Homo sapiens: one gene and its partner. The protein of the gene in region 2 purifies or fractionates together with the protein of the main gene of each other region. This does not show direct contact. Each region holds a gene or a part of one and is shown on either strand. Other genes may lie near its edges. The genes, in order: CDK19 and CCDC117.

Evidence for each region.
Region 1: the proteins of CCDC117 (region 2) and CDK19 purify together in Homo sapiens (co-immunoprecipitation; one large-scale study listed by IntAct). This does not show direct contact.

Annotation. Positions count from the first base shown.
Region 1 is NC_000006.12:110,668,711-110,672,742, reverse strand, and holds part of CDK19 (cyclin-dependent kinase 19), read left to right. Parts: intron 1-2,201; coding exon 2,202-2,312; intron 2,313-4,032.
Region 2 is NC_000022.11:28,786,195-28,789,694, reverse strand, and holds the end of CCDC117 (coiled-coil domain-containing protein 117), read right to left. Parts: coding exon 3,369-3,500; 3' UTR 400-3,368; downstream 1-399. UniProt on the Homo sapiens protein: Facilitates DNA repair, cell cycle progression, and cell proliferation through its interaction with CIAO2B.

The DNA of each region.
Region 1 (4,032 bases), on a different chromosome or scaffold from region 2:
AAGATAGAGTAAGGGTAAGAAAACAAACAAAGTGCAGAACAGTGTGTATATTATGCTATCTTTTGTGTAAACAATGGAGGATAAAATATATATTCATATTTGTTTTTATTTGCATTAAGAAACATTGCAAGGAAAATAAGCAATTAATAAAAGTTGTTACCTCCAGGGAAGCAAGAGGAGTGGTAGTGAGACATTTCAATATATAACCTTGTATATACTTTGATTTTTGAACCATATGAATGTATTATCTAGTCAAAACAAATTTTTTAACACAGGACTTAAAATGAATTTATTCTAGTGGGATCAACAATTGGAAGTCACAGAAAATGTAGTTTTTTAGAAGTGTTGATTAAATATTGCTACTGTGACAACCACTTTCCCAGACAAGTGAGGTCCAGGAATCAGGGATCTGTGCCAGTGTTGGGTGTTTCAAGAGCCTGGTTTAGATGCGGAAGTGGAGTTCTACTTTCCCATCTACTTCAGGCTGCAAAGAGAACATATTTTGCATAGGTAATAAAGGCAAACTCTCTACGTTCATCAATATCAAGGAGTCAGAAAGAAGGAGACAGTCATTGTGCCTGGGGTGAAGTCTCTTGCCACAGTGTAAGTGCTTCAAGGCTGGCCATAGCAATGGGGTCATTAAAAACAGGGTTTGCCAGAGCCAGAGATCCTGAAGTGTTCAAAATGGCAAACTCTCTAGATTTTGGGAGGCCAAGGTGGGCAGATCACTTGAGGTCAGCAGTTTGAGACCAGCCTGGCCAACATGGTAAAACCCTATCTCTACTAAAAATACAAAAATTAGCCGGGCATGGTGGTGCGTACCTGTAATCCCAGCTACTCAGGAGGTTGAGGCAGGAGAATTGCTTGAACCTTGGAGGCGGAGGTTGCAGTGAGCTGAGATTGTGCCATTGCATTCCAGCCTGGGCAACAGAGCAAGACACTGTCTAAAAAAAAAAAGTTACTAAAGTTATTAGAATGGGTAAGCAGTTTATTTTTCTCTGCCTCATTGATCTATTTATATGTCTGTCTTCCTTACCACATTGTGGGAATTGAAGACATGAACTTTAGCTGTAGTGGAAAAAGCATGGACTTTGCAATCAGGCAGATCTATTTAAGTCCAAACCCCTTCTCTTTCTAGCTATTTGACTTTGGTCATGTTATTTTTATCACACTGAGCCTTGGGTTCTGTGTGCATCATAAAATTGTTCTAAAGATTAAGTGAGAGAAAAACATTTGTATATAATCATCTTGCACATATAAAATATTCAAGGGAAGTTTTGTCTTTCCCTTTTTGCATCTTTCACAGAGCTTTACATTTAAAAGGTATTCAAAATATTTATTAAATTGAATATGTTTCTCTTTACCTGTGAAATCTGAACCCTGTTTAAGGACAGCCTGAGGGAGGCATATTTCTAAGGCTTTTACCTTGAGCAATAATGTCATTGTTGCTAAATATTTTATCAAACAGCTGTCTGTTATGCGCAAAGTGCTGTTTCTGCTTGCTGCTCTGGTCTATCTTTCCTACATATCGTCAGAGTCCAGCTTAAAGCTTTTACTTTGTGAAGTCCTATTTCTTTTTTTCTGTTTACAGGACCTGTTCTCAACTTCAGTTTTTATAAGTGGGCATGACAGTCATTCCCTTATACTCACTACTCTTCAAAAAAAAACCCTCAACCACATACTCTAGGGATGGATAAGTACAGGGATTGTTAAATATCTTTCCTTGTTTTGTCGCCTGTTTCTTGAGCACCAATACAGTGCTAGGGTAGATATAAGCAGTATTAATACATGAGTCCTGCCTCCCAAGGAACAGTTTCTTTAGTAAAAAAGATATGCATGTACAAAAATGTAATTAATTATTTAATGATATGATATTACTTTTGTTTGCTGTTTTACATTTTACCATTTAAAATCCTATTTTTAAAAACACATTCCTGCTTGCAGTCTCTGACAAGAAAGAAAGTAAAACAAAACAAAACAGATATACCTAAGCACATAGAAAAAGGATTGGAAAGATATGCACCAAGATATTGACAGAGCTTATCTCTGAATGCCAGTATTTTGGGTGGTATTTTTTTCTTTCATTTTGCTTACCTGGATTCTCTAGATTTTCAGAAATTTCGTTTTGAAGTTATAAGACATTCATCATTTCCCCCTCCTTGCTAACACAACAGTGACCCCTCTCTTTCTTTTGCATTCAGCTTTTGCGAGAATTGAAGCACCCTAATGTGATTGCATTGCAGAAGGTGTTCCTTTCTCACAGTGACAGGAAGGTATGGCTGCTGTTTGATTATGCAGAGCATGACTTGTGGGTAAGTATAATCTCACTGTATTTCTAGGATTGTTTTATATAGGTATGGAGCATATTTATATAAAATACATATTGTTAATGCACAGAAAGGAAAGCTTGCTCTGTTAGCCATATTTCAAAGTCAATATAAACATAAATGTTGATTTTGAAGAATTTAAGCAATAAACTCACATTTTACTGAGAAGATAGTATTTGTAATATTTAGAAATTTTACTTCAGAAAGATTTTAATGAATGGGAGACTATACTTTTTTTGGCCCGGGGGAGACGAACGGGGAAGGGAGTTTTGCTCTTGTTGCCCAGGCTGGAGTGCAGTGGCACGATCTTGGCTCACTGCAACCTCTGCCTCCCAGGTTCAAGCGATTCTCCTGCCTCAGCCTCTTTAGTAGCTGGGATTATAGGCATGCACCACCATGCCTGGCTAATTTTGTATTTTTAGTAGAGACGGGGTTTCTCCATGTTGGTCAGGCTGGTCTCGAACTCCCAACCTCAGGTAATCTGCTCACCTCGGCCTCCCAAAGTGCTGGAATTACAGGCGTGAGCCACCATGCCTGGCGGGAGACTATACTTTTATGCAAGTAATTAATGGCAGTTTACTAATATGTATAGTGAAGATTGCTTTAAGGATGTTTTTATCAACGTATGAAAGAAGCAAAAAATTCTAATTCCTGTCTTTTCAAATTAGGAATCAGAACATTTAAACACTTTATCTGAGGAACTGCTAAAAGTAACAAACTTCAAATCTGGCACTAAGTTAAAATTATGGATAATTAATTTAGCACCACTATGCCTGGCTAATTTTTCAAAAATGTTTTATAGAGACAAGGTCTTGCCACCTTGCACAAGCTGGTCTTGAACTCCTGGGCTCAAGTGATTTTCCTACTTTGGCCTCTCAAACTGTTGAGATTATAGGCATGAGCCATCACACCCAGCCTTTTTTGTTTGTTTGTTTGTTTGAGACAGGGTCTCGCTCTATCACCCAGGCTGGAGTGCAATGGCACAGTTATGGTTCACTGCACCTTTGACCTCCTGGGCTCAAGCGATCCTCCTGCCTCAGCCTTCCAAGTAGCTGGGACCACAGGTGCATGACCACACCTGACTAATAAATTTTGATTTAATATAATGTGGTTTGTCATCTATATAAGTTATAAATCTGTTGAGGAATAACTTTAACAGACTCAGGTCTTAAAGAAACTTTCAGAGTGTATGCTATTATAGCAGATATGGACAAGAATTTCCAGTGTGTTTTTTTTGTTCAATTCTTTTCATGGATATTCACAGACATTGTATTTTCTCCATTTTTCTATATTCCCCTATATGTCAACCAAGGCTTACTGGACAGTGTATGTACTTTACTTTGAACATCAGTGGGGTGATGAAAGAAGATGATGTTGTACATTGGAATAGTCAGATCCTGTAGAACTGTACTGTCCAATACCATATTTCAAAATAAATATAATCATAAATGTTGATTTTAAAGAACTTAAGCAATAAACTGACATTTTACTGAGAAGATAGTATTTGTAATATTTAGAAAATTCACTTCAGAAGTATCTGAAGTGCACACATTGATTTTACCTGTTTCTTTTTTTTTTTTTTTGAAACGGAGTTTCACTTTTGTTGTCCAGGCTGGAGTGCAGTGATGCAATCTCAGCTCACTGCAACCTCCGCCTTCTGGGTTCAAGTGATTCTCCTGCCTCAGCCTCCTGTGTAGCTGGGATT
Region 2 (3,500 bases):
GAGAAAAGGTCTTGCTAATATTGTCCAGGCTGGTCTCTCCTCAGCTTAAGTGATCCTCCTGCCTCAGTCTCACAAAGTGCTGGCACAGGTGTGCACCATCGTACCTAGCCCATTTTAACATTTTTGAATACACAGTTACCACTGCCATCTAAATACTAACAATAGCAGTGAACTGCTCTGAGTGGAAAGCAGTCTATGGGTTTTAGAATAGCAACACATGGCCTGCCTATTGTGGGAACAGCTAATTCAAATATGATACTTAGCTTTATCCCAACATAATCATCCCTTCAGGATAAATTTAAGTCCTTCACTGATATGAATGCTGCTTCAACTACAATTCAGAGGAAAGGAGATATCTGATTTCATTATTTAAGTGGAGTAATACAAATATCTCAAAAGTCCAAAACACTTAAGAAGTTTTATTGAAAACGATAAAATACAGTAACACCAGATTCTCATTTTAAAGTAAAATTAACAGCATCTTCCAGAACATTCCTAGAACTGAACCATTCTTGTCACTATTGAAAAACAAAGCCAAGTTCCAAATCCAAAATAATAAATGAACGTGCTGATAAACATTCTTCTTATGGTTCCAGCCCCTACTTTAGTTATTTTCCTAAATTTTACATGTGTACCTTTTCAAGAAAGAGTAAGTTTTTTAAGTGATCAATATTTATGAGAACTGGACTTTCTTCATATAATTACAAAAAAAAAAAAAAAACCCAAAAAACAAAATCCACAACGCACCCTACTCAAACTCAGATAAAATACACATTTGTTCATTAAAGCTCACCTGCTTTAGAGAATTTTTTCTCTTCACACATTAGCACAGTAAGCCAATGTTTGATCCATGCTGCAAAAGCTACACAAAACGAAAAGCCCTGGTAACTCCCTAGGGAACTCTTAAGGCAAAGCAAAAGCAAAAACCTTATGCTACAAAAGTAAAACAAAAAGCAGAGGCATTGGGACTGTGGAGACGGCTCAGATGAATAAGCACCACAAGGATGAAGAAAACAATTTTTGTAGAAATTTTTGCAAGAAGATAAAGTCCAAAAAAGAACATAAAACATCAATTATCCTGCAGAAATAATTATCATGTCAGGTAACTTGACTACTGAAATAAGCTCTGTTTGGATTTTAATTAACAGATTCTTAATTCTCTCCTACATTTACCAGTAGTATCAGAGCCTTGTGTTGGGGGCTTGTTTCTTCCTTTTCATCATAAGACCTTTAGTCGGAGACCTGCCCAGCAATTCCTGTAGAAGACAATCTTGGTGTGTTTTAGGTCCTTCTTTGGAAAGCTGTCATCTCCCTTTCCACCTAAACACTAACTCTACCTCTGGGCAGTCACTTCATGTTTTTGTGTTGCATTAGAACACATTTTTCAGCATGGAGATTTATTTAAGGCTCATACTTTACAAGTTGGTCCCATCAAACAATGACTACAAGGCAGAAGTTTATCAAATGGCATGAATCAAACACTTGCACATTTCAAAAGAATACAGTTTACATTCATCTCGAAATCTGAGATTAAGAAACTATTAGCTGGTTTCCAACTGCTTTCAATACTGGTTTGAAGTTTGAATAATTTTACTGTATAGACATTAAATATTTTGTTTAAATATTAAACATTAAATCTTTTCCTGACTATCCAGACAGAAAGAGAAAGCAGGAACAGGCAAAGAAGCAACAGTCCAATTAACAGACTTGTGACTTCTACGCCATCTGTAACAAGGGGAGGGATTTCAGTAAGGGTTCCAAAAACGCCTAGAAGGTGGTTTCTAAAAATTCACCTTTACGTGGCATAAGCCATTTTTTTCTACAAAAGGTATCTGATTCCTACAAAGGGGGAAGAAACCCAGAAAACAAAACTGGGGTGGTGTCCTGTTGTGTGATGGAAGGGCATTATACCATTACACTCGTTTAATAACTTATAGAGGATACTCTGTAGCAATAAAGAAATTGTCATTTTATTTTGCCCTATCAGCCCCTGCCACATAGAAGAGCTCTTCCTGAGAAACTAAAAATTTCAAACCTGGCTATCCTCAAAGGACACCTGAAGCCTGGTTTGGGTACTCAAGAAGATGAAGGCTTCCTGCTAGCAGGAAGCAATTCTCCACTACCTTTTAGGTTTACTGCACAATAGTCTAAGCACCAGTCAAATTGGCTATTTCAGTAAACCTCAATGTCACCTGCTCATATATTTTCAGCTAATCCTTCACTGTTTTCTATATTAACATTTAAAAACAACTTGCTGGCTGCGTGCCGTGGCTCACGCCTGTAATCCCAGCATTTTGGGAGGCTGGGGTGGGCAGATCACCTGAGGTCAGGAGTTCGAGACCAGCCTGGCCAACATGGCAAAACCGGTCTCTATTAAAAATACAAAAATTAGCTGGGCGTGGAGGTGGGCACCTGTAATCCCAGCTACTTGGGAGGGTGAGGCAGGAGAATTGCTTGAACCCGGGAGATGGAGGTTGCGGTGGGGGAAAAAAAAAAAAACTTGCTAATACAAGTATAACTTTTTAAAAAAATTACCAAAGTTATCAATGTTGGGTTTAGCTGATAAAGCACTTCCTTAAGATGAACTAAAGGATGCTTCTCCCACAGGCAAATTGCAGATGGGTTACCTCATAATCTTTTAACTATCAAAGTCAATTAATTTGTAAACATTACTGAATAACTGGGCTTATCAATTACGCAAGGGAAACCAAGGAGCAACAGTGGCACAAGGCAAAAAAGCCTTAAAGAAAAAACTTTCTCTATATTTTCATAGTCAAAGAGGAGAGCCACAATACTATCGGCTATTTAATCAACAGAGCTATATTGAATTGATAACTAAATTACAAGTTGCTAAGAAATTAAATTTCTTAGCAACAGGCTTAAGCTACTGCTGCTCTCTTCCCTTCTTCTCCCCAATTATATATAGTCACCACTGTAAACAGCTCATATCTACACATTAAGCTGTGACTTAACTGTCAGGATACAGTTGTAGGAGCATCCTTCTTAATCATCTTTTTTAATTCAAGGAGAATATTCTCCAAGTGTCTGAATAGTTTAGACAATGTGACATATGATTTAAGTCACCCTTACACATACAGCTTCTATACTTGTCTTTGAAGACAATGTAAACCAACATTCCTTTAATAAGCCCCACAGAAAACTGCTTTTCCCTTGAGACAAACGTCCTTGGCAAAAAGGTGAAGTCAATAAATGGCTACCCAAAATAAGAGTCCCACCCCCAAATCACAGGTGGAGATATTATTACACCCGTCTCATAAAACTTTCAAGTCCCTATACTATGCAAAGAGTCTCATAACTGAACACAGGATTCTTCTAACATTTGACAACTTTAGTGTAGAAATTGGTTTCTAGAGTTCCATCTCTTCTTCTGTGCTAGTAGCTGTCTCCAAACTATTATAAAGAGACATCCCTGTTGGCCGAGGTTCCGAAAACAGTTCAGTTCTCTGAGGGAAGGCAGTGCCAGCAGCTACATGCTTAGC